Linked DNA regions of Homo sapiens: region 1 is linked to region 2. The links come from fine-mapping of genetic effects on gene expression. A gene starts in region 2. The other region holds a variant in brackets. All regions are shown on one strand. Distances are between the middles of the regions.

Region 1 (16,362 bases), 38 kb after region 2:
ACACACCATTTAACCACTAAGCTGCTGGTCTCCTGGGCACCTTTTCTGGCCCCGCCCCTATCTGTCACCCTTCGTGCCTAATGTCAAGTGCAGGAAGCTTACTGAAGTGTCAAAGGCACAGACACTGGGTGACAGTGTGAGACCCTGTCACAAAAAAAAAAAAAAATGCATTTCAAAGCAGATACCAGTAAGCTTCTTATATTAACTTGTGCTGCTAGCTTCTCTTTTTGTGAGTTAACTGAGGATGACTAGAAATCTGCCTTGAATATGAAGATGAGCAGAGAACTTGCTGACAGATTTTTGAAGAGTAGCTCTGACTTCAGGGTGGTTTCAGGAATAACTCAGCTATATGGGTGGGTGTGGTGGCTCCCGACTGTAATCCCAGCATTTTGGGAGGCCAAGGTGGGAGGATCACTTGAGCCCAGGAGTTTGAGACCAGCCTGAGCAACATAGTGAGACCCCCATGCCTGCAAAAAATTTAAACAAAGGTGAGCTGGGTGTGGTGGGCCCATGGACCCAGCTACACAGGAGGCTGAGATGGGAGAACTGATTGAGCTCAGGAGGTTGAGCCTACAAGTGAGCTATGATCACACCACTGCACTCCAGCCTGGGCAAAAGAGTGAGACCCTGTCCCAAAAAAAAAAAAAAAAGGAATAACTCAGATATGAAATCACTTCATATTTATGTATTTATTTATTTATTTGGTATGGCAGGGACAGAGTTTCACTCTTGTCACCCAGGCTGGAGTACAATGGCATGATCTCAGCTCACTGCAACCTCCGCTTCTTGGATTCAAGCAATTCTCCTACCACAGCCTCACGAGTAGCTGGCATTACAGGCGCCTGCCACCACACCCAGCTGATTTTTGTATTTTTAGTAGAGACAGGGTTTCATCATGTTGGCCAGGCTGGTCTCGAACTCCTGACTTCAGGTGATCCACCCATCTTGGCCTCCCAAAGTGCTGGGATTATAGCCATGAGCCACCGCACACAGCCTATTTCATATTTAAAATGTGGTGGCAGTGACAAAGAGTTGACTGCCTCACTTAGCTTTTCTTTCTTTCTTTTTTTTTTTTCGTTGAGACATGATCTGATATGGTTTGGCTGCTCCCCCACCTAAAATCTCATCTTAAATTGTAACCCCTATAATCCCCATAATCCCCGTGTGTCAAGGGCAGGACCAAGTGGAGGTAATTGGATCATGGGGGTGGTTCCCCCATGCTGTTCTCATGATAGTGAGTCTCACGAGATCTGATGGTTGTTTAAGCGTCTGGCATTTCCCGTGCTTGCACTCACTCTGTCCGTCCTGCTGTCCTGTGAAGAAGGTGCCTGCTTTTCCTTTGCCTCCTGCCATGATTGTAAGTTTCCTGAGGCCTCCCCAGCAATGCAGAACTGTGAGTCAATTAAACCTCTTTCCTTTATAAATAACCCAGTCTCGGGTTATTCTTCATAGCAGCATGAGAACAGAGTAACATAGGGTCTCACTCTGTCACCGAGGCTCTGGAGTGCAGTGGCACAGTCATGGCTCACTGCAGCCTCGACCTTCTGGGCTCAGGTGATCCTCGCACCTCAGCCTCCCAAGTAGCTGGGACTACAGGTTTGTACCACCACAGCCAGCTAATTTTTTTATATTTTTTATCGAGACAGGGTCTTGCCATGTTGCCCAGGCTGGGCTCAAGCAGTTCACCTGCCTCGGCCTCCCAAAGTGCTGGGATTACCAGGATGAGTCACCACGCCTGGCCCTCATTTAACTTTTAACCTTGATAAATTGTATGTTGTATGTCAAGGCAAAACGGAAGTGGGGGGGAGGGTGCAGAGGCAAGCATCAGGTGGGTAGAATACCCTCCCTTTATCACACATATTAACATTCCTTGCACAATTACCCAGTGAATATTCTCATTTTGGACTTTTTCCACACCCTAAATTTAGTAAGCTAGAATTATCTTTATTTATTTCTCTCTTTTTTTTTTTCCTAAGTCACTGTGTTTTAGGATAGAATTATCTTTTAAGCACCACTTTAAGCAACCTTTTTGGAAGGAAGAATGCTGACAAGGAGGAGATCTGTGTTTCCTTGTGGTTAGAATGCAATATCCTTAACTTAATCATTCTGCCAAGAAGCTGAGTCTCTTTATATGCTGACAATAGAGCAAAGACAGTAATCCAACACATTCATTACAGGTTTGTAAGATTAAAAATTTATACATTCAGATTGGAAAACATGAGAAACAGACTTGCTGCCAGACCATTAATTCTGGGCATCTCTGCATTCTGTGTTCTGGAAGCTGTGCACATTGAATTGAATAATTGCCTGAAACATGCCAGGGGTTTTCATTATCTAAAGAAGTCTATGTCGAGCCTTTTTACAACTAAAACCTCTCTAAAATGAGACTTAAGGAGTTTTTTACTTAATTTATAGACTTTAAAACACTAAGATCTGCATGTAAATAAGTTTAAGTGAGATGTGCCTATAGAATAAAACAATTAGAAGTAATTTCTTTGGTTTTCTTCTTATTATTATTTTTTAGTAGAGATGGGGGTCTCGATTTTTTGCCCAGGCTGGTGTCAAACTCCTGGCCTCAAGTGATGCTCCTGCCTTGGACTCCCAGATTGCTGGGATTACAGGCATAAGCCCTTGCTCCTGGCCTAGAAGTAATTTATTTAAAGTCTTGTTTACAAAGAGAAATGCACGAAGCACGTACAGAGGAAGAAAGAACAGTTCCAAATGAATGATTTTTGTTCCTAGTATTTGAGGAACAAAAGGTTCACTGACAAGAGTCAGTGATGAAATGTGGCTGTGTTTGGGAAAACATGGGATCTTTCCCTTCTACGCCTCATTATGAGATTAATTTGTAGTGTGGAATAAACAAAGCTAGCCCTGGAATTCAAAGAATGGGTTTTAAACCCAGCTCTGCCTCTAATTAGCCAGGAGACCTCAGCCTAGTTCCTTAATCTCTCTAAGCCTCCTTTTTCTCCTCTGTAAAATGGAGATATAGTAACTGCCTCAGAGTGTGATTAAGAAGAGTACATAAAAAAGTGTATATGAAAGACTTGAAGTCATGCTATTTTTGTTTCTAAAGTCACAGGGGGCAGGGCGCAGTTGTTCACACCTGTAATCTCAGCACCTTGGGAGGCTGAGGCGGGTGGATCACGAGGTCAGGAGATCGAGACCATCCTGGCCAACATGGTGAAACCCCGTCTCTACTGAAAATACAAAAACTAGCCGGGCATGGTGGCATGCGCCTGTAGTCCCAGCTACTCAGGAGGCTGAGGCAGGAGAATCACCTGAATTTGGGAGGCAGAGGTTGCAGTGAGCCGAGATTGCACCAGTGCACTCCAGCCTGGGTGACAAAGCGAGACTCTGTCTCAAAAAAAAATGAATCAATAAAATAAAATAAAAATAAATAAAATAAGGTCATAGGAAGCCATGCAACTAAACAAGGGGACTAAGTGAAAAGTCTGTAAGAAATAAGGAAGTTTGTGTATATCCCTCCCCTGCCATTATCCCAATTAATACAGCTGTCCCTTACTGAGCCTGTACTAAGTCACAAGCACTGCATTCCGGGTTTGCTTTCTTTCACTGGGCAGAGCTGATGCCCACTGAATATACAATTTGTAGAGAAGTCTGATGTGGATGATTGTACTTAGAATCAAACTTCTCAAACTTATTAAACAGCCAACACATATTGAGTGCCTACTACATGCCAGGCATTGTGCCAATGAGCAAGACCAAAATGGCTCCTACTCCCAAGATGTTTACAGTCTAATGGGGGAGATGAAGCCTAAACAAGCATACTCATATATTTAATACATGGACCAACCATCGTAAGGTATCCAGTGACTACCTTCGTAAAACCAGAGGAGAGGGATGGACAAGGAAGGTCTTTTCTGAGCAAGAGACATTTAAGCTCAGAGCACAAGAATGACAAGAGGTAGGGAAAGGCCAGACAGAAGAGTGTATGTAAGAAATTGAGGAAAAAAAAAAAAGAAAGAAATTGAGGGCCGGGGGTGGTGGCTCACGCCTGTAATCCCAGCACTTTGGGAGGCCAGGCGGGCGGATCACCTGAGGTCAGGCGTTCAAGACCAGCCTGGCCAACATGGCAAAACCCCATCTCTATTAAAAATACAAAAAAATTAGCCAGGCGTGGTGGCAGGCGCCTGTAGTCCCAGCTACTCGGGAGGCTGAGGCAGAAGAATCGCTTGAACCTGGGAGGCGGAGGTTGCAGTGAGCCGAGATCACACCATTGCACTCCATTCTGGGCAACAAGAGCAAAACTTCATCTCACAAAAAAGAAAAGAAAAGAAAAGAAAAGAAAAGAAATTGAGAGAGAATAGAGCTTGGGCTGTTGGTGAACACATCCCATGTAATTAAGCTTAGTGAGAGATGGGGAAGGGAGGTACAAATGAGGTCAAAGAGACACAGCAGCAGATCAGGGAGGGCCTAGTAGCCATGTTAGGGAATTCTAACTTTTGATAATAGGACTGTAGCAGAAAAGTGACATTATCTGGGTTAAGTTTTTATTGGAAATGGAATTGTGTACCAGAATGGAAAATAGGCCGGGCACAGTGGCTCATGGAAAATAGGCCGGGCACAGTGGCTCATGCCTGTGATCCCAGCACTTTGGAAGGCTGAGGCAGAAGGATCGCTTGAGGCCAGAAGTTCAAGACCAGCCTGGGCAACATGGTGAAACCCCCATCTCTACAAAATATACATATACATATATATATATATATATATATATATATGTGTGTATATATATATATATATATATATATATATATATATATATATATAAAATAATACAAAAAATTAGCCAGGCATTGGGCCATGTGCCTATAGTCCTAGCTGCCCAGGAGGCTAAGGTAGGAGGATCGCTCCCTTGAACCTGGGAGGTCAAGGCTGCAGTGAGCCATGGTTGCGCCACTGCACCCTAGTTTGGACAACAGAGTTGTTACTGGTGGAAGGTATCCGAGTCACATGGCACCAAAATATGTTAGACAAGGCCAATTTGTAGGGGTCTGCAGCAACCTCAAATCTTGCTTCCTCAGAAGAAAGAATTCAACCGAGGGACCTAAGGCAAAAGGAGAAACCAAGGCAAGTTTTAGAGCAGGAGTGAAAGTTTATTGAAAAGCTTTAGAGCAGGAATAAAAGGAGGGAAAGAACCTACACTTGGACGAGGACCAAGTGTGTGACTTGAAAGACAAGTGTGCGGTTTGACCTTTTGACTTGGGGTTTTATACGCTGGCATGCTTCTGCGGTCTTGTTACTTCTCCCCTGATTCATCCCTTGGGGTGGGCTGTCTGCAGGCACATTCCTGAGCCCACTTGCCCAACCCCTGAGGTCTTCTCAAGAAGCCACTGATCACATTTCATGTGTTTTCCATGTATTAGGACACTGCCTTTCCCTGGCACTGGCTGTGACCAATTACTATTTTAGAAAGACAGTTAACAACTGCCTGATCATCACCTGATGGTTGCCTGATATTCCTGATATTTGTGTGTGTTGGGCGGAGCCCTCTCCTGCCCTGCTCATGCCTGACCAGCTACCTACTGTAACAAAGTAAGACTTTGTTTCAAAAAAAAAAAAAAAAAAAAAAAAAAGAATGAGCCGGGCAGGGCGGGCGCATTATCTCATGCTTGTAATCCCAGCCCTTTGGAAGGCCCCGGTAGGCCAATCACCTCAGGTCAGGAGTTCAAAACCAGCCTGGCCAACACGGTGAAACCCCATGTCTACTAAAAATACAAAAATTAGCCAGGTGTGTGGTGCACACCTGTAATCCCAGCTACTTGGGAGGCTGAGGCACGAGAAGTGCTTGAACCCAGGAGGCGGAGGTTGCAGTGAGTCGAGGGCATACCACTTCACTCCATTGAATTTGGCAATGAGGAGGCTACTGGGGGCCTGAGCAAAAGCAGTTTTGCTGGATTCATGGGGTGAAGGAAAAATTGAGTGTGTTGAACAGTGAATGAGCAGGATACACTGGCTCATGCCTGTAATCCCAGCACTTTAGGAGGCTGAGGCAGGAGGATCACTTGAGACCAGGAATTCAAGATCAGCCTGGGCAACACAGCAAGACCCTATCTCTACAAAGAAAAATAATAATATATGAGAAGAGACAAGCCATTCCTAGAAAATTGAAAAGAAACAAAAATGCATATAAACGTATATCAAGGTCCTCACATAGCCATTGTATAAGTCAGAATTTTCCAGATAGGTAGATAAGAGGGGATGTATTAGGGGAACTGGTTCACATGACTATGGAGGCTGAGAAGCCCCATGATATACCATCTGCAAGCTGGAGAACCAGGGAAGCCAGTGGCATAATTCAGTCTGAGTCCGAAGGCCTGAGAACCTGTGGGCTCCTGGTGTAAGTCCCAGAGTCTGAAGGCCTGAGAAGCTAGAGTTCATATGTCCAAAGGCAGGAGAAAATGGGTGTCCCAGCTCCAGAAGACAGAGTGAATTAGACTTTCCTCTGACTTGTTATTCTATCCAGGCCCTCAACAAATTAGATGATGCCTGCCCACATCAGGTAGCTCTTCCTTACTCAATCACTGATTCAAATGCCAATCTCTTCCGGAAACACCCTCACAGACATAACCAGAAATAATGCTTTCTGGGTATTCCTTGACCAGCTATCTGGGTATTCCTTGACCCAGTTGAGTCGACATCTAAAATGAATATCACAGCTATATAGAAAAGAAGCCTATTTCAAGTAACTTGAAACATAACATTTGATTGAAATTATTATTATTTGAGACAGGGCCTCGCTCTGTCACTCAGGCTGGAATGCAGTGGCCCAATCATGGCTCAAGCAGCCTCAACCTCCTGGGCTCAAGTGATCCTCCTGCCTCAACCTCCCAGGTAGCTGGGACTATAGACATGTGCCATCTCACCTGGCTAATTTTACTTTTTGTAGAGATGGTGGGGGTGGTCTAGCTATGTTGCTCAGGCCGGTCTCAAACACCTGGCCTCAAGCAATCTTCCTGCCTTGACCTTCCAAAGTGCTGGGATTACAGGAGCGAGCCACCATGCCCAGCTGATTGCAATTATTTACTCAGTGTACCCTAAAGACAAAAACAAATAGCAAAGAAGTCTTAAATTATATTCAATAATCTCATGTTTTTTTCTTTCTTTCTTTTTCTTTGAGTCGGAGTCTCTTTCTGTCACCCAGGCTGGAGTGCAGTGGTGCGATCTTGGCTCACTGCAACCTCTGCCTCCTGGGTTCAACTGATTCTCCTGCCTCAGCCTACAAAGTAGCTGGGACTACAGGCACATGCCATCACACCTGGCTAATTTTTGTATTTTTAGTACAGGTGGGGTTCCACCAGTGTTTGCCAGACTGGTCTCTAACTCCTGACCTCAGGTAATCTGCCCACCTCAGCCTCCCAAAATACTGGGATCACAGACATGAGCCACCACGCCCAGGTAATCTTATGTTTAGTAATAACAATATTGCTATTTTAATACCTTTATGTGTATATTTTAGAATAAAGCAAATAAGTAATTACATTAATGTTATTATGAATCAAGATTTTTGGCCGGGCGCGGTGGCTCACATCTGTAATCCCAGCACTTTGGGAGGCCAAGATGGGCGGATCACAAGGTCAAGAGATGGAGACCATCCTGGCCAACATAGTGAAACCCCGTCTCTACTAAAAATACAGAAAAAAATTAGCTGGGCGTGGTGGCACGCTCCTGTAATCCCAGCTACTTGGGAGGCTGAGGCAAGAGAATAGCTTGAACCTGGGAGGCAGAGGTTTCAGTGAGCCGAGATTGTGCCATTGCCCTCCAACCTGGGCAGTAAAAGAGAGGAGAGATACAAGTCTCATTTTAAAGAAGTATAAGCCTGAAATCTTAAATCTGAATTGGAAATATTAATACAAATTTATGATTTTTTTCTGCTTTTAAAGAGCATATATTTCCTAGATGTGTCATCCACCGAGACCTAGAAAACTAAAATCAATACGAATTCAAGAGCAATGGCATCTCACTCTTCAAATTGTAGCCCTTAAATAGCCTTTCCCCTTACAAGGAATTAGGGATTCTTGGAGACATGGTTGCTTCAACCTTGCCATTCTAGAAAGGAAAGAAGCAATCCATGACTACTGAGTCATGTTAATAGGACACAGAAGCCAAAATGAAAAGACCCCCATTGGCAAAAGATGGGACGATTTGAGTATAACAAGAATAATTACAATGGAATAAAACTCATTAAATGTATAAAATTCCTTAAGATCATATAAAACTAGTAAGAACGGGCTGGGTGTCAATGGCTCATGCCTCCCAAATCCCAGCACTTTGGGAGACTGAAGTGGGAGGATTGCTTGAGCCCAGGAGTTAGTAGACCAGTCTGGGCAACATAGTGAGACCCTGTCTCCACAAAATAAAAATAAATAAAATAAAATAAAAACTAACAAGAACAACCACCAAATATCAGGTATTCATTGAAGGTCACTAAGGCACTAAATTCATTATTCTAAAAACTGGCTAATGAAAGGAAAAAATCAAGCATTTATCCTGCTTTTCCTGTGCAAATTGTATTCAGGGTGATCAGATAACTGGTTGCTGGGGGAAAGTTCTATTTAAAGCAGAGTTCCAGGTAAAGATGCAAAAGGAAATAACAGAATTAGGAAATTGCCATTTTGTAACTCTAATGAAGTAACAAAATTAAGCAGTGATTATTCATGGCTCCTGTAGACACCAGGGGAAAGATTGATGGAGACTTTTGTAACAGATCAATCTGTCTTATCATTAGTAAAAGTGGGACAATCAGACATCACATGCCTCCTGTGATACAGTAAGAAGTATACAGCCCCACCCCCAAGGCTGATCCTAAATTTCATTTTATCTCTAGATCCAACCACCCCTTTACAGGAAATGGGTTAGATAGAGGAACAAATTAAAAATAACATCAAGAGCACCTGTAATCCCAGTGCTTTGGGAGGCCAAGGCAGGCGGATCACTTGTGGCCAGGCTGGCCAAGACAGTGAAACCCTGTCTCTACTAAAAATACAAAACAGTAGTCAGGAGTGGTGGCACATGCCTGTAGTCCCAGCTACTTGGGAGGCTGAAGTGTGAGAATTGTTTGAACCCGGGAGCTGAAGATTGCAGG[G/A]AGCAGATATTGTGCCACTGTACTCCAGCCTGTGCAACAGAGTGAAACTCCACCTCAAAAAATAAATAAATAGCTGGGCGCAGTGGCTCACGCCTGTAATCCCAGCACTTTGGGAGGCCGAGGCGGGAGAATCACCTGAGGTCAGGAGTTTGAGACTAGCCTGGTCAGTATGGTGAAACCCCATCTCTACTGAAAATACAAAAAATAGCCGGGCATGGTGGTGTGTGCCTGTAATCCCAGCTACTCGGGAGGCTGAGGCAGGAGAATTGCTTGAGCCCAGGAGATGGAGGTTGCAGTGAGCCAAGATTGTGCCATTGCACTACAGCCTAGGCAACAGGAGCGAAACTCTGTCTCAAAAAAAAAAAAAAAAAAAAAAAAAAAAAAAAAAAAAGAAAGAATATTTTTACAAGTGTTTTTGATTAGGGTAGGTAATACATTATCTAAGAACATCTTACCCAAAGGATAAGACCACACTTTTTTACTCTAGTGCTCCAAAATATTCAATTTCATTGTTGAAATTTTCTATATGCCATATTTCTCTCCAGCAATTGCTATTTCTCTGCTCAGCAAAATGTCTTAAAACAAAAACAGGCTGGGCTCAGTGGCTCATGCCTATAATCGCAGTGCTCTGGGAGGCCAAAGGAGAAGGGCTGTTTGAGCCCAGGAGTTCAAGAACAACCTGGCAATTAGGGAGACCCCATCTCTACAAAGTAAAAAGTATTCACTGTGCATGGTGCTGCACACCTGTAGTCCCAGCTACTTGGTAGGCTGAGGTGGGAGGATCACTTGAGACCAGGAGTTAAAGGCTGCAGTGAGCCATGATCATGCCATTGCACTCCAGCCTGGGTGACAGAGTAAGACCCTCTAAAAAACAAATCAAAAAACCACAACAAATCCACACCTGTTGTCCCCAATTATCCACTCATCTTTTAAAAATTTTTTATTTTTTGATGTTTCTTAAGTTTTAGTTTTCTTTTTTTTTTTTTTTTTTGGAAATTAGAGTTATCCTGGAATGTTTCTTTTTTAAATTGTTTTAAAAACAGAGACGGGGTCGCACTACATTACCCAGGCTGGTCTTGAATTCCCAGGCTCAAGAGATCCTCCTGCCTTGGACTCTCAAAGTGCTCGGATTACAGACATGAGTGTTTCACCAATGTTGGCCTCGAACTCCTGACCTCATGATCCGCCTGCCTCTGCCTCCTAAAGTGCTGGGATTACAGGAGTGAGCCACCGCGCCCGGCTAAATACTTGTACAAATATTAAACTGAAAACAGAATGAAAAGGAAGCTAGCTGGGCATGGTGGCTCACGCCTGCCAACCCAGCACTTTGGGAGGCCAAAGTGGGCAGCTCTGTTGAGGCCAGGAGTTTGAGACCAGCCTGGCCAACATGACGAAACCCCATCTTTACTACAAATACAAAAAATTCGCCGGGCATGGTGGCAGGTGCCTGTTAATCGCAGCTTCTAGGGAGGCTGTGGCACGAGAATCGCTTGAACCCAGGAGGTGGAGGTTGCAGTGAGCCGAAATCATGCCACTGCACTCCAGCCTGGGCCACAGAGTGAGACTCTGTCTCCAAAAAAAAAAAAAAAAAAGAAAAAAGAAAAGAAAGAAAAGGGAAAAGGAAGCTAAGCAATCCTATCATTGTAGAAGGAGTAAGGGAATGTTAGCAATGTGATGTGTTTGTATCCAAGTCAAAGCAGACACCTGGAGTCAAATGTTCAGCATGGATATGACTTTTGTTACTTTGATGACTATTTTGTATTTACAAGATTTTTTTGTTTATATAGCTGTCTACATTGTTTGAAAATATTTTGGTTTCACTTGGTGCTTGTTCTACAAATTTAAAAACATGTTACGCCTGTAATCCCAACAATTTGGGAGGCCGAGGCGGGTGGATCATGAGGTCAAGAGATCGAGACCATCCTGGCCAACATGGTGAAACCTCGTCTCTACTAAAAATACAAAAATTAGCTGGGTGTGGTGGCATGCACGTGTAATCCCACTACTCGGGAGGCTGAGGCAGGAGAATTGCTTGAACCCGGGAGGCGGAGGTTGCAGTGGGCTGAGATCACGCCACTGCCCTCCAGTCTGGTGACAGAGCGAGACTTTGTCTCAAATAAATAAATAAATAAATAAATAAAATAAAATGTTTAGTATATTAGAATATTCTTTAAAATTATTAGTATATCCCTGAGCCTAAACTAACCTTCATAATCCACGTTAAAAATTTTGTAGGCTGAGCGCAGTGGCTCATGCCTGTAATCTCAGCACTTTGGGAGGCTGAGGCAGGTGGCTCCCTTGAGCCCAGAAGTTTGAGACCAGTCTGGGCAACATAGTGAAACCCCACCTCTACGGAAAAATATATATATTAAATTTTTATTTTAAAAAATTTTATAGCCTCATATGCAAAAGAATATAGTGGTTCCCTCAATCTTAGCAGGCATTCAAGGATGATAAATATTGTAATATTATTTTTCCATTTGGCCTATAATCAGAAAAGTAGCTCTGCTGCAAGCAGTAATTATCTTACTGTGTGTTTCTTTATTTTTTTATTTTTTGAAACTGAGTCTCATTCTGTTGCCCAGGCTGGAGTGCAATGGCACAATCTCGGCTCACTGCAACCTCCACCTCCTGGGTTCAAGTGATTCTCCTGCCTCAGCCTCCCAAGTAGCTGGGATTACAGGCGTGTGCCACCACGCCTGGCTAATTTTTGTATTTTTAATAGAGACGTGGTTTCATCATGTTGGTCAGGCTGGTCTCCAACTCCTGACCTCGTGATCGGTCCCCCTTGGCCTCCCAAAGTGCCGGGATTACAGGCGTAAGGCACCGCGGCCAGCCCTTACAGTGTGTTTCAAACTCCTATTATTAACCATGTTTAGACCACATGAACCTTGAAAGCTGTAGTTGGTGTATTTGTCACGCTTCAATTCCATTAGTTTGTTATTCGTAGAATGAAGGGGAGCAAATACTTCCTTTTTTACTTTCTCTCACTTTTGTTTATCCTTATGAAGAAATCTTCATCTAAAATTGTTGATCATATGGTCTTTGGAAAGCTAAGACGTATTGCTTACCATTTAGTCATCAATTCCCAGGAATTTATTTCAGCCTTCCGTTTCTTTTTAAAGGAAATACTTTAAAATGTAATCTTTATCATAATCACATTCATACATAATTTTACCTAACTACCTAAATATAGTAACATATATGCTTTGTAAAAAAAAAAAAGTGCTTTTTTTTCTTTCCTTTTGTTTTGCTGAGCCCCCCATCTTCCTCTCCTCCTCCCTTCCCCTATGTCAACACCATTTGCCCAAGGTCACCCATCCACACCGAGAACCTGGGATGTATCCTCCCATGTTTCCTCTTTACTCAGGTAATCTTATACCTACACATATATATATGAGTCTACACATACAGAGCATTCACTTCTTTTTTGAGGGGAGAGGGAGGACAGAGTCTGGCTCTGTTGCCCAGGCTGGAGTGCAGTGGTGCGATCTCAGTTCACTGCAACCTCTGTCTCTCAGGCTCCAGCGATCCTCCCACCTCAGCATCCCAAGTAGCTGGGATTATAGGTGCATGCCAGCATGCCCAGCTAATTTTTTGTATTTTTGGTAAAGACAGTATTTTGCCATTTTGGCCAGGCTGGTCTCAAACTCCTGACCTCAGGAGATCCACCTGCCTTGGCCTCTCAAAATGCTGGGATTATAGGCATGAGCCACTGCACCCGGCTGAGCAGTCACTTCTTAAATCATAGTTTTGTAAACAAGCACTCATGGTATCTTTATTATTATTTATTTATTTATTTATTTATTTTTGAGACAGAGTCTCACTCTGTCGCCCAGGCTGGAGTGCAGTGGCACAATATTAGCTCACTGCAACCTCTGCCTCCCAGGTTCAAGTGACTCTTGTGCCTCAGCCTCCCGAGCAGCTGGGATTACAGGTGTGTACCAACACGCACAGCTAATTTTTGTATTTTTAGTAGAGATGGGGTTTCACCATGTTGGCCAGGCTGGTCTCGAACTCCTGACCACAAGTGATCCACCCACCTCAGCCTCCCAAAATGCTGGAATTACAGGCGTGAGCCACCACACCTAGCCTGTTAAATCTTACATTCACCATTTAACAGTACCTTATGGAAACCTCTCCTTGACATCTGGCTTAGCTCCATGTCATTCTTAAAAAAAAAAAAAAAAAATGGCTGGAGAATTCCCCAGTGTGGATGTGCCATCGATGAGCAAGCTTTCACTGTTTTCACATTTCTGCATTATGAATAGTGATGTGATAAACCTACTTCTTTATCTTTATGGTCTTGAATCCATATCCTTACATATGGTTATTTGCATTTGCTAGTTACAGGAGAGTTGCCATTGAATTTATTATTCTTTTTAAGAGATGTTGCTTTCCAAAACCTTGAGGAAGAGAGTCAAGAAAAGAAAGGCAAACTTGAACAGAAATGCCTACTCCATGAATTTTTTTTTTTTTTTTTTTTTTGAGACAGAGCCTCACTCTGTCGCCCAGGCTGGTGGGCAGTGGTGTGATCTTGGCTCACAGCAACCTCTGCCTCCCAGTTTCAAGCAATTTTCCTGCCTCAGCCTCCCAAGTAGCTGGGACTACAGGCACCCACCACCATGCCCGGCTAATTTTTATATTTTTAGTAGACAGGGTTTCACCATGTTGGCCAAGCTGGTCTCGAACTCCTGACCTCAAGCAATCCGCCTATCTCGGTCTCCCAAAGTGCTGGGATTAGAGGTGTGAGCCACCCCGCCTAGCCCCTACTCCATGAGTTTAAATTGTGAGGATTGAATGAGGACATAGGTACAGTGTAAAGACCAACCTGGCTGATAATATTTTTTGTTCTCTAAAGACTGTGGGCTCCTTTAGGTCGCCAGCAGGGCCTCTGATGAGTGCCATTTATGTGGTACACAGTGACAGTGATGTTCCAGGATTGTGTAACTGAAAGGTTTAGAAAGAAAGGGTGGAGCCATGAAAAGCACAGGCTTTGGAGTCAACAAACCGAAGTGTAAGTTGCAGCTCTACCACTTTCCGCTGTGAGATCTTGGGCGAGTTACTCAACTTCTCAGAGCTTCAGTTTCCTCCTCTGCAAGATGGAGATAATGATGCGAGTCTGAGAGGGTTGCCTTGAGGAGGAAGTGCATGTAAGGCCCTCAGCAGAGTGCCTGGTGCTCATTAAATATGATGGGTTCTTTATCAGATGTCTTCCTTATAGTTCTTTCCAGCTATGTATCAGTTTCCCCTCGTCAGATGAAAACCTGTTGAATGCAGGAACTGTATCTAATTTATCTTTGCATCTTTACATATCCAGTCCCTAACTTGGTTTTTCCTCCTACCAACTACCTCCAGGTCTTTTGTTCTGCTAAATAAGCATTGATTGAAATAAGGGCAATAACAACAATTTTTTTGTTTTTGTTTTGTTTTGTTTTGAGACAGCAACCTGCTCTGTCACCCAGGCTGGAGTGCAGTGGTATGATTACAGCTCATTGCAGCTTTGACCTCCTTGGCTCAAGCGATCCCCCCACCACAGCCTCCCAAGTAGCTGGGACCACAGGCATGTGCCACTAACGCCCGGCTAATTTTTTTATTCTTAGTAGGGATGAGGTCTCACTATGTTGCCCAGGCTGGTCTCAAACTCCTGAGCTCAAGTGATCCTCCCACCTCAGCTTCCTAAAGTGCTGGGCTTACAGGCATGAGCCACTGTGCCCAGCTAATAACAACAACTTTTATTATGGGCAATTTCAGAGTTACACTAAAGAAGTGAGATTAACATAGAGGACATCTGTGATCCATCACCCAGCTTCTACAGTTGTCAAGATGTTGATAATCTTTTTCATCTAGCTATTGACCACTCCTTCACCACCATCCCCTGTCATGGAGAATTTTATTTTTCAAGTTTTTAAACTTTTTATTTGCCTATTTTAAAAATTGAACCAGGCGCGGTGGCTCACACCTGTAATCCCAGCACTTTGAGAGACCGAGGCAGGTGTTGAACTCCTGAGGTCAGGAGTTCAAGACTAGCCTGGCCAACATGGTGAAACCCCCGTCTCTACTAAAAATACAAAAAAAAAATTAGCTGGGCATGGTGGCAGGCACCTGTAATCCCAGCTACTCGGGAGGCTGAGGCAGGAGAATTGCTTGAACCTGGGAGGTGGGGTTGCAGTGAGCTGAGATCGCACCATTGCACTCCAGCCTGGGCAACAAGAGCAAAACTCAGTCTCAAAAAAAAAATTATGCATTCTCATAATTAAAATTATTTGAACAATAACCACAAAAAATGGCACTCTGATTAAACTGCATTTTACAGCCTGCAGGATGCCTTGGGCCAGCTTGGTTTTATTCTAGATTTCACTGCTATCCTACCACACTTCTTCCTTCACCAAAATGCAAGTTCTTTCCTTCCCTGCCAGCCAGACAGGCGGATAAGAGAGGCTGGCACAGCCATCATCATCAGCAGTTCTTTGATGTGAAAGGGGCAGCACAGTCATTTAAACTTGATTTGACCTCTTTGCATCCTTCAAAGTTAAACAGCTAAAAGAAGTAAAATAGAAAGCAATGCTTTGTGGAATGAACAGTGCATATTGGCGATGCACGCCTCATTACGAAGCCTGCTTGCTTCTCCTGTTCGATCCATTCCTTGGAAGGCTGTGGATTTTTCTCTTGCATTTCTGTCTTCTTCAGTTTCGACTTACTGAATTTCTCGATCTCATCCATATTGGACTTGTCAGACATAGTCACAGAGGAAGCTGAGCAATGCCCACTAGCAAGTGGAATCTGGTCTGCTTAGTGTCTACTGCCCAGTGTTGGGAATTTTAAAACAAATCCCAGACATTGCATCATTTCAACAATTAATACTTGTGTGTGTTTCTAATAATACTTCACAAAGTGTGGTCTGGATTCCTGGGACTTACCAAGACCCTGTCAGGCAGCCTGCTAAGTCAAAACTATTTTTATAACAATATTAATATATTGTTTATCTTTTTGTTCTCATTATCTCGTGTACAGCAGAATTTTCCAACACAGATTGAATGCAGCCACAAATCTGAAAATCCAGCTGTCTCCTATTAAACCAGATATGACAGAGTTGCAAATTTTTACAAATCTATTGACAAAAGTGTAAAACAATATCACTCGTCACGATGCTGTTTGAAAAATATACTTATTTTCATAAAAATAAGTCCTTAACATGTAATATGTTTATTATTACTATGTTTTTTAAATTTTATTTTATTTTTTCTTGAGATGGA
Region 2 (16,362 bases):
GACCAAAATGGAGAAACCCCATGTCTACTAAAAACACAAAATTAGAGGTTACAGTGAACCAAGATCGCGCCATTGCACTCCAGCCTGGACAGCAAGAGTGAATCTCAAAAAAAAAAAAAAATTAAAAATTAAGAATTAAAATAAATTTCTTTTTTAAGAAAAAGTCACCAAATCCTGCCCAAGCTCAAGGGGGTGAGAACTAGGCTCCACTTTTTAAAGGGAGGAGTATCAAAGAATGTGTGGACATATTTTAAAACAACCGTAGTGGCTCAGCCTGTATCCTAACTATCATTATTAACTCAACTTTTTTTTCTTTTTTTGAGACAAGTTCTGGCTCTGTCCCCCAGGCTGCAGTACAGTGGTGCCATCTTGGCTTGCTGCAACCTCCACCTCCCAGGCTCAAGTGATCCTCTCATCTCAGTCTCCAGGGTAGCTGGGGCTACAGGCGCATACCGCCACAGCCAGTGAGTGAGTGAGTGAGAGAGAGAGAGAGAGAGAGAGAGAGAGAGAGAGAGAGAGAGAGTGTGTGTGTGTGTGTGTGTGTGTGTGTGTGTGTGTGTGTGTATCTTCTTTTGTAGAGATGGGGTTTTGCTATGTTGTCCAGTCTGGACTCAAACTCGTGAGCTCAGCTGGGTGCAGTAGCTCACACCTGTAATTTCACCACTTTGGAAGGCCAAGATGGGCGGATCACCTGAGGTCAGGAGTTCAAGACCAGCCTGGCCAACATGGTGAAACCCTGTCTCTACTAAAAAAAAAAAAAAAAAAAAAAATACAAAAATTAGCTGGGCATGATGGCGGGTGCCTATAATCTCAGCTACTCAGAAGGCTGAGGCAGGAGAATCGCTTGAACCTGGGAGGCAGAGGTTGCGGTAAGCCGAGATCATGCCACTGCACTTCAGCCTAGACAACAAGAGCAAGACTCCATCTCAAAAAAAGAAAACAAACAAAAAAAAAAACCACACACTCCTGAGCTCAAGCAATCCACCCGCCTCGGCCTCCCACAGCACTGGGATTATAAGGATGAGCCATGGTGCCCAGCCTAATCCATAACTTTTACAGAATTTTTTTTATTCTGCATCCTAATTAATACGCTAAATCTACCAACTCCTATCCCAGTGCATATTCTGAGCCATAATGCTTCATGATGTAGTTCAAGGACAATAATAACATCACTGGGGGCTTTTTATGTGCCAGGCACATGCCAAGCATTTTCAAACATTTTGTGCCTCATGAGAACCTCTGTGGTAGATTCTACGACAAGCCTTATTTTTTTTATTTTTTATTTTTTTCCAGTTTCAGCCCAGGCTGAGTTCCAGCCCAGGCTGGAGTGCAATGGCACGATCTCGGCTCACTGGAACCTCTGCCTCCTGGACTCAAGCAATTCTCCTGCCTCAGCCTCCTGAGTAGCTGCGATTACAGGCATGCACTACCATGCCTGGCTATTTTTTTATTTTAGGTAGAGACGGGGTTGCGCCATGTTGACCAGGCTGGTCTCAAACTCCTGACCTCAGGTGGTCCACCCGCCTCGACTTCCCAAAGTGCTGGGCTTACAGGCGTGAGCCACCGCGCCCTGCCGACATGCCTTAATTTTGTAGGTGAGGAAACAGGTTTAGCAGAGTACATACCAGTCCACACTCCTACACTTTACTTTTTTTTTTTTTTTTTTTGAGAGTCTCACTGTGTTGCCCAAACTGGAGTGCAGTGGCATTATCTTGTGTCCGGAAGTGGTGGCTTCTTGGTCTCACTGACTTCAAGAATGAAGCCGTGGACCCTCGCGGTGTGCGTTACAGCTCTTAAGGTGGTGTGTCTGGAGCCTGTCCCTTCTGATATTCAGATGTGTTTGGAGTTTCTTCCTTCTCGTGGGTTCGTGGTCTCGCTGGCTCAGGAATAAAGCCGCAGATCTTCGCGGTGAGTGTTACAGCTCTTAAGGCAGCGTATCTGGAGTTGTTCCTTCCTCCCGGTGGGCTTGTAGTCTCACTGGGCTCAGAAGTGAAGCCGCAGATTTTCGCGGTGAGTGTTACAGCTCATAAATACAGCATGGACCCAAAGAGTGAGCAGTAGCAAGATTTATTGCAAACAGCGAAAGAACAAAGCTTCCACAGTGTGGAAGGGGACCCGAGCACGTTGCTAATGTTGGCCCGGGCAGCCTGCTTTTATTCTCTTATCTGGCCCCACCCACATCCTGCTGATTGGTAGAGCCCAGTGGCCTGTTTTCTCAGGGCGCTGATTGGTGCGTTTACAATCCCTGAGCTAGATACAAAAGTTCTCCACGTCCCCATCAGATTAGTTAGATACAGAGTTTCCACACACAGGTTCTCCAAGGCCTAGAGCAGCTAGATACAGAGTGTCGATTGGTGCACTCACAAACCTTGAACTAAACACAGGGTGCTGATTGGTGTATTTACAATTCCTGAGCTAGATATAAAGACTCTCCACGTCCCCACCAGACTCAGGAGCCCAGCTGGCTTCACTTGATGGATCCCGCACAGGGGCTGCAGGTGGAGCTGCCTGCTAGTCCTGCGCCGTGCGCTCGCATTGCTCAGCCCCTGGGTGGTCGATGGGACTGCGCGCCGTGGAGCAGAGGGTGGCGCTCGTCGGGGAAGCTCGGGCCGCACAGGAGCCCATGGAGTGGGTGGGAGGCTCAGGCATGGCGGGCTGCAGGTCCCGAGCCCTGCCCTGTGGGAAGGCAGCCAAGGCCCGGCGAGAAATCGAGCGCAGCGCCGGTGGGACAGCACTGCTGGGGGACTCGGTACACCCTCCGCAGCCACTGGCCCGGGTGCTAAGTTCCCCATTGCCCGGGGCCAGCAGGGCTGGCTGGCGGCTCCGAGTGCGGGGCCCACCAAGCCCACATCCACCCAGAACTCCAGCTGGCCCGCAAGTGCCGCACACAGCCCCGGTTCCCGCTCGTGTCTCTCCCTCCACACCTCCCTGCAGGCTGAGGGAGTGGGCTCCGGCCTTGGCCAGCCCAGAAAGGGGCTCCCACAGTGCAGTGGGGTACTGAAGGGCTCCTCAAATGCCACCAAAGTGGGAGCCCAGGCAGGGGAGGTGCTGAGAGCAAGCGAGGGCTCTGAGGACTGCCAGCACGCTGTCACCTCTCAATCTCACCTAGCTACAACTTCCACCTCCCAAGATCAAGCAATTCTTGTGCCTCAGCCTCCCAAGTAGCTGGGATTATAGGCACCTGCCACCATGCCTGGCTAATTTTTTTATTTTTAGTAGAGACAGGGTTTTTTCACCACATTGGCCAGGCTGGTCTCAAACTCCCAGTGGGTGATCCACCCACCTCGGCCTCTCAAAGTGTTGGAATTACAAGCATGAGCCACTGTGCCTGGTCCCAAGCCTTACTCTTTTTTTTTTAGATTTTTTTTTAAAAATTATACTTTAAGTTCTGGGGTACATGTGTAGAATGTGCAGGTTTGTTACACAGGTATACATGTGCCATGGTGGTTTGCTACACCCATCAACCCATCACCTATATTAGGTATTCCTCCTAGTGCTATCCCTCCCCCAAGCCTTACTCTTAATCACTGAACTAGTGCTGGGGAAAATGTGTGCTTTATGGAGAGAGACTGAGATTGGTTGGAGTTCTGGCACCAACACTTAAGAATTGTCTGATTTTCGGCAGGGCATCATGGCTCACACTTGTGATCCCAGCACTTTGGAAGGCCGTGGTGAGTGGATCACCTGAGGTCAGGAGTTCAAGACCAGCCTGGCCAACAGGGTGAAACCCCATCTCTACTAAAAATACAAAAATTAGCTGGGCGTGGTGGAGGGCACCTGTAGTCTCAGCTACTTGCTTGGGAGGCTGAGGCAGGATTATTGCTTGAACCCAGGAGGTGGAGGTTGCAGTGAGCCAAGATGGTGCCACTGCACTCCAGCCTTGGTGACAGAGCGAGACCCTTTCTCAAAAAAAGAAAAAAAGAATTATGTGATTTTTCTTTTATTTGCTCATCTTTGTTAGGCAAGAATTATGTGATTTTTGGTGAAACCTAGTCTTCTTGGGCTTTGATTTTACCTTATAGAAAAATAGAAAAAAGATAATCCCTTAATGGTTATGATAAGGAATAAATAAAACTATCCAAAGACCTGAGCACAGGGCTTGGCACAGATAGGGGTGGTCAGTAAAAGGTGGTCTTCTCCTCTCCTTCACTTTTTTCTCAAATCTCCACTCTCATTCATACATGAGATGGTTCAGCTGTGGCCAGACTGTTGGCTTCGTTCCAGAAAGCAAAACGTAGCAGGACTATGCGGAATTCCTGGGAAACCAGGTACGCCTGAACTCCATAGCCTTTGTTTCCTCCCAGCCTCTGCTGACACTTAGGAAAAGCATCAGAGCATTCCCTAAAGAAATACTTTAATTAATAAAAGCCCCTGGCACCATCCCAGAACTGCCCCAGCTTCTGGAGAGACAAAGTGTTTTCCTCCTTAGTCACACCAATGCCTTTTTCTCTGATTGCACTTTCCACGTGGTTTTCGAGCTGACAGGAAGGGTGGGAAATTGCTGCTTTGCTTTCCTGGAGAACCACAGACTAGGACCTGGGGGCATTGCTGGGTAGATTATGAACACCTTTGGCCAAGAGTTGCATCGATCCCCTAAAAAAACCTAGGTACTGGCCAGGCGCGGTGGCTCATGCCTATAATCCCAGCATTTTGGGAGGCCGAGGCAGGCGGATCACCTGAGGTCGGGAGTTCGAGACCAGCCTAACCAACATACGAAAAATACAAAATTAGCCAGGCGTGGTGGTGCATGCCTGTAATCCCAGCTACTCAGGAGGCTGAGGCAGGCGAATCACTTGAACCCGGTAGGCGGAGGTTGCGGTGAGCCGAGATTGCGCCATTGCACTCCAGCCCTGGGCAACAAGAGCAAAACTCTGTCTCAAAAAAAAAAAAAAAAAAAAATTCCTGTTACTGAGACTTCTAGGGTATCTGGACAGAAGAAGGCTAGATCTTCCAAGAATAAAAATTGCAGCCGGGGAGACAGAGCAAGATCCTGTCTCAAAAAAAAAATAAAAAGAAAACGCGAAGGCTTCATTTGCCCAATATACAATGCACGACTCTCAACACCTTCAAAGAATTACATGCCCCTCCCATGAAAACGCTTCTTTTTTTTTTTTTTTTTTTTTTTTGAGACGGAGTCTTGCTCTGTCGCCCAGGCTGGAGTGCAGTGGCGCGATCTCGGCTCACTGCAAGCTCCGCCTCCTGGCTTCACGCCATTCTCCTGCCTCAGCCTCCCAAGTGGCTGGGACTACAGGCGCCCGCCACCACGCCCAACTAATTTTTTGTATTTTTAGTAGAGACAGCATTTCACTGTGTTAGCCAGGATGGTCTCGATCTCCTGACCTCGTGATCCGCCTGCCTCGGCCTCCCAAAGTGCTGGGATTACAGGCGTGAGCCACCGTGCCTGGCCTGAAAATGCTTCTTATACAAAATTTAAAAGTTTGGGAAAATATTGTCACAATTTGTCTAATTCTGAAACATGACATGTTTACTTGGGGTTATTTATCGTTTTTTTGGTGGGAGGGCAGGGAACTGGGTCTCACCCTGTCACCCAGGCTGGAGTGCAGTGGCACAATCTCAGCTCACTGCAACCTCTGCCTCCCAGGCTCAAGCCATCCTCCTGCCTCAGCTTCCTGAATAGCTGGGACTACAAGTGCACTCCACTATGCCCAGCTAATTTTTGTACTTTTTGTAGAGATGGGGTTTTGCCATGTTACCCAGGCTGGTCTTGAACTCCTGAGCTCAAGTGATCTGCCTACCTTGGCCTCCCAAAGTGCTGGGATTACAGGCATGAGCCATGGCCCCCAGCCATTTATCATTTTTTACAACCATCCATGGTTACCATTCTCTGCTACATTATCGGGTCACACTTGGAGGCCCATGAAAGAGGGTGTCTTACTAAAGATGAAAGGAGGTGATTCAGGCCTTTTCCCCCATGCACCTCCACAGAATTGACTGCTTCTCTCCAGAGTGTTTCTCTAATGTTCACAAGGCCTTAAAATGAGGGGGCTCACGGAGTGTCTAAGAGGAAGCTGGAGTCAGGCAGTGGGAATAAAAAGAATCCCTTGACTCCTCAGAAGCTTTCCTAGGCCAGGCACGGTGGCTCCTGCCTGTAATCCCAGCACTTTGGGAGGCCAAGGCTGAGGGATTGCCTGAGTTCAAGAGTTTGAGACCAGCCTGGGCAACATGGCGAAACCCCAGAAAATTAGCCAGGCATGGTAGTATGCGCCTGTAGTCCCAGCTGGTCGGGAGGCTGAGGTGGGAGGATCGCTTGAGCCTGGGAGGTGGAAGTTGCAGTGAGCCGAGATGTCACCACTGCACCACTGGGTGACAGAGCAAGACCCTGTATAAAAAAATTAATTAATTTTAAAAAAAAGTTTTTCCGGAAGTTTAGTATTATTTTTTCCCTTTCCATGGAAGATTTTAAAACATATTTCTTTCTTTTCTTTTCTTTTGTCTTGCTCTGTTGCTCAGGCTAGTGTCTAGTGGCACAATCATAGCTCACTGCAGCCTTGAACACCTCAGCCTCTGGAGTAGCTGGGACTACAGGCATGTGCCGCCATGCCCAGCTGATGTTTATTTTTTGTAGAGATGGGGTCTTGCTATGTTGTCCAGGCTGGTCTCCAACTCCTGGCTCAAGCTCCTTCACCTCAACCTCTCAAAGTGCTGAGGTGTGAGCTACCACACCCATCCTAGAAACATATTTCTACCTCATATTTATCAAGTAGCTTTGAATATATGGCCCATCATCTTCTTTACTGTTTCAGTTTCTTCCTCAATAAACCAAACTAGTCTTCCTGACTCATGTGGAGCTGAGTCACCTGGTGGTGAGGGTGGAGGAGTGAGAGATCTAAATTTGGTTGACATGGTGTGAGAAATCAGCTTATCTTTCATAGAACCCTTCAGTCCAGGAAAATGCTGGGACTGAACCAATCATTTCAAAGATGCCCAGAACCAAAGCCCTTCTACCAACATATAACTCCCAATGTCAGCCATCAGTTGAGGTCCTGTGGCCACACTGGCCAGGAGGGACGAAGGGAGGAGAGTGTGAAGGGATACAGCAGTTTTTCGAAATTGGAGTCCTTAAGTGCCTCTGGAGATCTTATTGAATGCTTAAAATATCAGGCTTAAAATATAAATTGTTGCACCTGTAATCCTAGCTGCTCAGGAGGCTGAGGCAGGAGAATCACTTGAACCTGGGAGGCGAAGGCTGCAGTGAGCTGAGATCAAGCCACTGCACTCCAGCCTGGGCGACACAGAGCAAGACTCCGTTTCAAAAAAAGAAGAATTTCCATCATTCCTACCTTTAAGGGTGTTTTCCTTCCAAGAACCTCTAGTCCAAAGGCGAGTGGGACGGGAGGTGTTCCTCACTTCCCATCAATTTTCCCTTCAAAGGCTCTCCTTCTTTCACAGTCTGGCGCTGGAGGCAGTTAGCAGGAGAGCCTTAATAAAATTAGGATTACCCATCACATCTCTCCCCCGAGCCAATGAATAGAAAGAACAATAGTTACCATTATGCACACTTTTTTTTTTAAAGACTTTATTTTTCAGCGTAGTTTTAGGTTCACAGCAAAATTGAGAAGAAGGTACAGAGTTCTGATACACCCCCAGCCCCACACATGTATAGCCTCCCCCATTAATCCTAGCACTTGGGAGGCTGAAGCAGGCAGATAGCCTGAGCTCATGAGTTTGTGACCAGCCTGGGCAACGTGGCTAAACCCAGTCTCTACAAAAAAAAAAAAAAAAAAAAAATTAGCCGGGCATAGTGGTGAGTGCCTGTAGTGCCAGCTACTCAGGAGGCTGAGGTGGGAGGATGGCTTGAACCCAGGAGGTGGAGGTTGTAGTGAGCCAAGATCATGCAACTGCATTCAAACCTGGGCAACAGAACCAGACCTTGTCTCTAAATAAATAAAAACAACAACAAAAAAGAATATACACAGCCTATGTTCAAGGAAGAGTAACAACAAAAAGCTTCATGGCTGATGAATAGTGTGTGGTGAAGGGGAGTATTTGAGTATGAGGAAGACTGAAACAAATAAGGCTAGACTGAAACACTTTATTTTAATAGTTTTTTCTTTTTTCTTTTTGAAACAGAGTAGTCTCATTCTGTCGCCCAGGCTGGAGTGCAGTGGCACAATCACAGCTCACTGCAGCTGCATCCTCGACTTCTCGAACTCCAGTGATTCTCCCACCTCAGCCACCAGAGTAGCTGGGACCGCAGGTGCGCACCACCAGGCCCAGCTAATTTTTGTATTTTTTTTACAGGTGGCTTCACCATGTTGCCCAGGATGGTCTCAAACTCTTGAGCTCAAGCAATCTGCCCGCCTCAGCCTCCCGAAGTTTTGAGATTATAGGAGTGAGTCTAGACTGAAACATTTTGAATGCCACACTCTAGTTTACAGAACTTTATTCAGTAAACACTGGAGACCAACAAACGTTATCAAGCAAAGAAATGTTCAGATTTACATTTTACAGAGATAATTGTGACCAGAAGGGATGGACTTGAGAGTGAAATCAGAGCACTGTTTCTTTCAATAGCCGCATGAGAATTTGAGGGGTGGGGAAGACAAGGCACATTAAAATGAAAATTTCTGGGTCCACCCTTTATTGAATCAGAATCTCTGGGTTCAAGGCCTGGGAATCTGCATGTTACATCTCAAACATAGGAGTGATTCTTGTAGGCTCTGAAGTCTGAGCTATAGACTAGAATCAGAATGGCCAGTTAGGAAGCTTTTGCAATTATCCAATTAAGAAATGAAATGTCCTGGGTGCCATGGCTCATGCCTGTAATCCCAGCAATCTGGGAGGCTCAGGCGGGAGGATCACTTGAGTCCAGGAGTTCGAGACCAGCCTGAGCAACATAGTGAGGCCACTCATCTATACAAAACAATTAAAAAGTAGCTGGGCTTGGTGGCAGGCACCTGTGGTCCCAGTTTCTTGGGAGGCTAAGGTGGCAGGACTGCTTGGGCCCAGAAGTTGGAGGCTGCAGTAAGCTATTATTGCACCGCTGCACTCCAGCTGAGTGACAGAGCAAGACTCTAACTCAAAAAAGAAAAAGAGGGCCGGGAGCGGTGGCTCACGCCTATAATCCCAGCACTTTGGAAGGCTGAAGCAGGAGGATCACTTGAGGCCAGGAGTTCGAGAACAGCCTGTCCAACATGGCGAAACCCCGTCGCTATTAAAAATACAAAAATTATCTGGGCATGGTGGTAAGCGCCTGTAATCCCAGCTACTCAGGAGGCTGAGGCAGGAGAATCACCTGAACCCGAGAGGCAGAGGTTGCAGTGAGCTGAGATCGCGCCGCTGCACTCCAGCCTTGGCGATAGAGGCAGACTCTGCCTCCAAATACATAAGTAAATAAATAACAGATCTGTAGGCGGAAAACAATGTGGCAGTAATTGTTCCTTTGCCTTGGTGTCCCTGGGCAAAAGGCAGGCCCCCACTCCGGGGCATCGCTCGTCGCCGCTCCATTCTCTGCAGACCGAAGTTTCCCCAGGCCTGGGAAGACTAAGTGGGAGGCGCCCACCGTGCGAAGATCCTCCCGGCTTCCAGGGAAGGGAGGCTGGGCCTGCAAATAATAGCCGGGGGCAGGAGAAAGGCTCCGATTGGTCGGAGGGAGGGTGACGAACAAGGGGCGGAGTTTTCCTGGGGACTGGTGGGGGAAGTAAAAGGGAGGGGGTGTGCACCGCCGGGTGTCAGTTTCGGAACCCCAGCCAGCTCACCTCTGCGCCGCTGAACCCGATCCGAGCCTCCGGCAAAGGTTTTTCCCTCCTCCCCCGGCCGAGGGCTTCTGCAGCCCGGGCACCCCCGCCCCGCGGCGCCCCACATTCCCCCAGCCCGGGGCCCTTGGCGCGTGCGCTCCGTGCGGCTGTGCTCCGCGGGACTTTGTTTGTTTCCTCCTCGTCCCTCTTTGTTGGGCTGAACACCAGCCTCGTCAAAGCCCCCCACTCCGGAGGGAGTTCGGCTTCTCCAGCAGGGCGGCTGCAGCGCGCTGCCCCGACCCCGCCTGCGGCCCCTCACGCCGCTAGTGCTCCCACCCCGCCCTCCTGGCACCCCGCCTGCGTCCGTTCGCCCGAGGAAGCCAACCGCGACTTCATTGATGCACCCATTCCAGTGGTGTAACGGTGAGTCCCCGGGGCGAGGGCCGAGCCTACGTGGGGCTGGTGGGAGCCGCGGCGCGGGGTGCGAGGTCGGACAGCAGCGCGCTGGTCCTCCCTCGGGAACCAAGTTTCTCCTGAAATGGGACAGTCGAGAAGGCGTCTTGGCGCCCCACTCTGCTCTGCACAGCGCGGAATTTGAAACTATCCAGGTTTCACTCCAGAGCCTGGAAGGGGCCTCCGGACTGGCGGCGGGCCGGGGGCGTGGGAGCCGAGGGGTTCCCGGCCTTTGTGTGGCGGCCCGGCTCTTCTACCCCCTTCCCCTGCCTTTGTGCGCTCAAACTCTGTTCTTTGTTGTGGTTGTTGGAGGAGAATTAAATCCGCACTCGGGCTGGGATCTCCTAGAGGGAGCTCAAGTTCCCGGCCTGAAACTTTGCAGGCTATTGTAAATATGTATACCGTGCAGCGTGCGGGACTGGGCGCGGGGGTAGCTTCCTCTGGCTTTGTTGGTTTCCCACGGGCTGCTGGCGTGGCTTGGGTGCTTGCGGAAGACTGGATTAAAGAGTCGCTTTCGGCCAGGCGCGGTGGCTCACGCCTGTAATCCCAGCACTTTGGGAGGCCGAGGCGGGCGGATCACCTGAAGTCGGGAGTTCGAGACCAGCCTAACCAACATGGAGAAACTCCGTCTCTACTAAAAATACAAAATTAGCCGGGAGTGGTGGCGCATGCCTGTAAGCCCAGCTACTTGGGAGGCTGAGGCAGGAGAATCGCTTGAACCCAGGAGGCGGAGATTGCAGTGAGCCTAGATCGTGCCATTACACTCCAGCCTGGGCAACAAGAGCGAAACTCCATCTAAAAAAAAGCCGTTTTCCTGAGTTGATAAACCCTCGCAGAGAGCTCCGCGCCCGGCTGTCCCTGGGGTGCGAGGCTGGCCTGGCGGGAGCCGTGTTTCTGGCCACAAGGCCAGATTAGGGTGTCTGCTCCTGAGCCCAAGTGAAGGCCACACCTCCAGACGCGACAACCCCTCGCCCCATTTCTCCCCAGGCCTGGGTGATGCTTCTAAGTTAGTTCATTTCACCTGAGGCTTTTTGGAGGTTCAGGTGATACTGGGTTAGGCTGGAGTCTGATTCCTCAGCGAGCTACCTGAAAGGTAGGTGTTTCTGAGCGGGACACTTCAAAACCTTGGATACTAATCGCCCCCCACCCCACCCGCTCCAGTCCTCCTGGGGTCCTAGTCTTGACCGCGTTGTTCCGATGCTTGGAGAGTTTCTGGGAGAGAGAGATGGGAAGCAGCTGGCCTTATCTCTCAGTATGGCAAGCGAGCTAGTTACAGGGGGAAAAAAATCATTCTTTAGAGTAGACTCCTGCCAGATCTTGGATTAATTATGTCAAGAGGCTTTGTTTTGAGGCAGGGTTTGGGTAGCATGTATACCCCACATCCCCCCACCCCGCCTTCCTCCTTTTGCTGGTCGGATCTCATTTCCTGAAAATGAACCAAGCCGTGTGTGATAGGCGGTTTTGTGGGAGAGGGGGCAGAGGATGGGGGTTGAGGAAGGCCCTTGCACCCTAGCATCTGGGAAAGATTCCCGTTGGCTGGGAAAGAGAAGCAGTTCCCAGATCCCCTGGTCTTTCTTGGCCAGCCCTTGTCTGACGTCATTCCTGCTCCCAGCCTGCCAGATGAGATGAGACATTCTGATGTCAGTGCTTTCATAGGTTGGCCGAGACAATGGAACAGAGACTTAGGGAGAAATGAGGCAGCTGTCAGTAACACTGCCCTTTCTGGGCAGCGCCCTTTCATATCAGATTTTAGACTTGCTGCTTTATTTTTTTTATTTTTTATTTTTTATTTTTTTGAGACTGAGTTTCGCTCTTGTTGTCCAGGCTGGAGTGCAATGGTGTGATCTCGGCTCACCACAACCTCCGCCTCCCGGGTTCAAGCGGTTCTCCTGCCTCAGCTTCCCGAGTACCTGGGATTACAGGCATGTGCCACCATGGCCGGCTAATTTTGTATTTTTAGTAGAGAGGGGGTTTCTCCATGTTGTTCAGACTGGTCTTGAACTTTTGACCTCAGGTGATCTGCCCACCTCAGCCTCCCAAAGTGCTGGGATTACAGGCGTGAGCCACTGCGCCCAGCCTACTTTAATTTTTTTTTTGAGAGAGGGTCTCACTCCGACAACCATGCTGGAGTGCAGTGGCACGATCAGGGCTCACTGCGGCCTCCAACTCCCAGGCTGAAGGGATCCTCCTGCCTCAGCCTCCCAGCATAGCTGGAACCACAGGTGTGTGCAACCATACCTGGCTACTGGCTAATTTTTAATTAATTAATTAATTAATCTACTTTTTGGGGATAGGGTTTCACTACATTGCCTATGCTGGTCTTGAACTCCTGGGCTCAAGCAGTCCTCCCACCACGGACTCTCAAAATGCTGGAATTACCTGCAGGAGCCACCTTGTCTGGCCCTCTTTGCACTTCTTAGAAAAGTGACTGAGAGATCCTGTCCTTTGACTCCTGTGAAGAAGCAACCCTTCCCTCACCCCTTCAGAAACTACCTGGAGCCCCTCTTTCCTGGGGCTGGTATTCTCTGTCCTTATACAGTTTTAAAGAAAAACTTACTACAGTGTCAGCTTTTGACCAGTAGACTATTTTGCCATTTCTTTAATAGTAACACAAGCAAATGAACCATCTCCTCTTGACTATGCTCTTCCCACCGACCTCTTTATCACGTGAAATACCAAGCTCACTGATTCAATCAGTGGGAGATAAAGGGGAAGCCTTTATCAGGCAGGATAAGTTGGTGGGGATAAACTGATCAGAGGACTTGCGGGGACCATCGTGCTTGTGGAGTGCACAGATATCCTCTGTAATAGCTCTGACCAGGTTCTGCAAGTTCCCAGAACTGGAAACCAAAGGAGGTTTCAGCTCATAAAAGGTGCCTGGAAGAACTAAGGAAACGGGGGGTTAGACCCTCTTGTAACATCAAATAGTGCGGGGGAAGGAGGTGAGAAAACAGCTGGGAGCACCAGGTCTTGTTGGAAGGGAAGTCCTGAGCCCCTTTTCCAGCATAGACTGAAGTTTGTCACTCTAGCCAGTCTGCCATGATGTCCTCATGGAAAATTGTTCTTCTTTGACCCACAGAAAGTAAATATTTGGGTGGGGACTGGTGGTGAAAAGCACTTTCTCTCTAACCCCTACTAGAGCCTAGACACAAGGAACTTCCTGTTGGGCACAGCAAAGTTTAGTAGCTAATTATTTCTTTCATTTCAACTTAATCAAAAAGTCTTTCACAACAAGAACTTCTACTTTCTGTTTTCCCACAATGTGTAGGTCAGTGCATAAAGCAAGCCCTCAATAATACTTGCTGGTTGACTGGTGATCCATTAGCGGAGGGCAGTTTCTGGGCAATTTTCCCAAACATCAGTCCTGCTGCTTTGAAGTGGGAGGTTTTGCCAAGGGGACCAGGTTATTTTAAGAAAATGGGGAATTATTTATCTGTTAACTAGTTATTGAGAACAAGCCAAACTCTAGGCTAGGCCGGACACTGGAGAATATACAAAAGTCCAAGTTGGAGTCAGCAAACCTAGGAGGGTTCAGGCTTTTTTTTTTTTTTCTTTTTTTCTTGAGTCTCACTCTGTCGCCCAGGCTGGGGCACAGTGGCGCCATCTCAGCTCACTGCAGCCTCTGCCTCAGCTCACTGCAGCCTCTGCCTCCCGGGTTCAACCAATTCTCCTGCTCCAGCCTCCCGAGTAACTGGGACTACAGGTGTGCACCACCATGCCCAGGTTTTTTGTTTTGTTTTGTTTAGAGACGGGAGTCTCTCTCTGTTGCCCAGGCTAGAGTGCAGTGGTGTGATCTCCGCTCACTGCAACCTCCGCTTCCCAGGTCGAAGTAATTCTCCTGCCTCAGCCTCCCGAGTAGCTGGGATTACGGGTGCCAGACACCAAACCCAGCTAATTTTTGTATTTTAGTAGAGATGGTGTTTCACCATGTTAGCCAGGTTGGTCTTGAACTCCCGACCTCAGGTGATCTGCCTACCTCAGCCTCCCAAAGTGTTGGGATTACAGGCGTGAGTCACTGCACCTGGCCTGAGCCTCACTTTCTATGGTGAAAATCTTTGTGTCTTTTTTTCCTATGTGGTAAGATCATCAGATCATCTAATCTTTTTTTTTTCTTTTTCTTTTTTTTTTTTGAGACAAGGTCTTACTCTGGCCCATGCTAAGTGCAGTGGTGCAATTGTGGCTCACTGCAGCCTCGACCTCTCAGACTCAAGTGATTCTCCCATCTCAGCCTCCTGAGTAGCTGGGATTATAGGCACTTACCACCACACCCAGCTAATTTATCATTATTATTATTTGTAGAGGTGGGGGTCTTACTATGTTGCCTAGGTTAGTCTTGAACTTCTGGCCTCAAGCGGTCCTCCTGCCTCAGCCTCCCAAAATGCTGGAGTTACAGGTGTGAGCCACCACACCCGGCCTGTGCTTTCTTTTAATAGTACTTACCATATAATCAATGCTTAATGCACATTTGAGTTAAAGTAACTTAATGCTAGGAACGATGTAAGACAGTTAACTGAGTAAGTAGGGGCCGAACAAATGATGGAGGTCATGAGTGCTGTAGAATTGAAGGAAGAGAGGTTATTGGACTATCACAGGCTTGATGGGCCTCAGAGAGAGCGTTTCAGGCAGGGAAAGCTGTGTAAACAAAGACAGGGAAGCAGGCAAGGACAAGATTGTACAAGAAATAGTGAAAAAGACTGGCCCACATGGAGTAGTATTGGAGAACTTTTAAGTAGGAAGTTGTGAAGGGACAGGGTGAATGTTTTAGGAGGACTTGAAGCCAGTCATGAGTTTGTAAAATACAAGATCAAAACGACAAGGAGAGGGCGGGGCACAGTGGCTTATGCGCTGTAATCCCAGCACTTTCTTGGGAGGCCAAGACGGGTGGATCACTTGAGGTCAGGTGTTCAAGACCAGACTGTCCAACATGGTGAAACCCAGTCTGTACTAGAAATACAAAAACTAGCTGGGCGTGGTGGTGTACACCTATAGTCCTAGCTACTCAGGAAGCTGAGGTAGAAGGATCACTTGAACCCAGGAGGCAGAGGTTGCAGTGAGCCAAGATAGTGCCACTGCACTCTAGCCTGGGTGACACAATGCAAGACTGTCTAAAAAAAAATTAAAAAAAAAAAGGCAACTAGGAGGATGTGTCAGGCGTGTGGGGTAAATGAGAGAAGGAACTAGAAACAGGGATGACATCAACTAGGAAACAGTAGGAGGTGATGAGTGTTTACAATAGGGCTGTGGCAGTAGAATTGGGCACAGCCTGAAAGAGGTTTGAATGGAGGCTCGTTATATAGTCATCAGTAAGGGATGAGGAGGACTGATGTCCAAGTTGACTTCCAGTCTTTCAAGCCACCTTCTGCTGAGTTGTAGTAGCACTGGTTATTAGCGTATAGAATTCTGTGGCATGTGAATGCATCCTGGCTCCTAACCAAGATGTCAGGAAAGTGCCTAGAACCCAAGGCCTGGGTACAGAGAACCCTTTGGAGCTGGGCTTTCCTAGCTGTTTGACTGTGGGCGAGTTACTAAATGATTGAGTCTTTTTCCCATTGGCGGGGGGAAGTAACCTTTACTGTGGCAGTACAAAGATTAAATTGATAGCATGAGAATGTGCTTAGGATGCAGCAGGTGAACAGCAAATTCCAGCTCTCCCTTTCATCAAGGACTCCCCTCTTTCCCTTTCCCTTCTGCCATCCTCAGCCATTTGACTTTTTTTGTTTTGTTTTTGTTTTTGTTTTTAGATGGAGTCTTGCTCTGTCTCCAAGGCTGGAATACAGTGGCACGATGTCAGCTCACTTGCAACCTCCACCTCCCAGGTTCAAGTGATTCTCCTACCTCAACCTCCCGAGTAGCTGGGATTACAGATGTGTGCAACCATGCCCAGCTAATTTTTTAATAGAGATGGAGTTTCACCATGTTGGCCAGGCTGATCTCAAACTCCTGACCTCAAGCCATCCAGCCGTCTCGGGCTCCCAAAGTACTGGGATTACAGGCGTGAGACACCATGCCTGGTCAAGCATTTGACTTTCTACTGAGCTGCTCTTTCCAGCTACAGCTTGGCTATCACAATTCTAGGTGTCTCTGAGAGACATGACCCCCCTCACAAAAAAAAAAAGGAAAAAAAGAACCTGCCGGGTGCAGTGGCTCATGCTTATAGTCCCAGCCCTTTGTGGGGCTGAGGCAGGAGGATCTCATTGAGGCCAGGAGTTGG

Evidence for each region. PIP is the estimated chance that this variant, and not a neighbour inherited with it, causes the effect.
Region 1: its variant is fine-mapped to the expression of RNF122 in whole blood (TOPMed, PIP above 0.99).

The regions. Positions count from the first base shown.
Region 1 is chr8:33,522,651-33,539,012 of GRCh38, reverse strand. It overlaps the pseudogene LOC100630919. Among named protein-coding and RNA genes, the nearest start is that of SNORD13, 17 kb to the right of the region's middle. RefSeq lists a silencer at 1,165-1,365. The variant G/A (reference allele first, on the strand shown) is at 9,107.
Region 2 is chr8:33,560,458-33,576,819 of GRCh38, reverse strand. RNF122 (ring finger protein 122) reads left to right here and starts at 9,692. Exons shown (of 6, transcript NM_024787.3): 1 at 9,692-10,121. The coding sequence starts at 10,097. RefSeq lists silencers at 9,808-9,927, 9,978-10,047, 10,078-10,127, 10,268-10,317 and an enhancer at 15,113-15,282.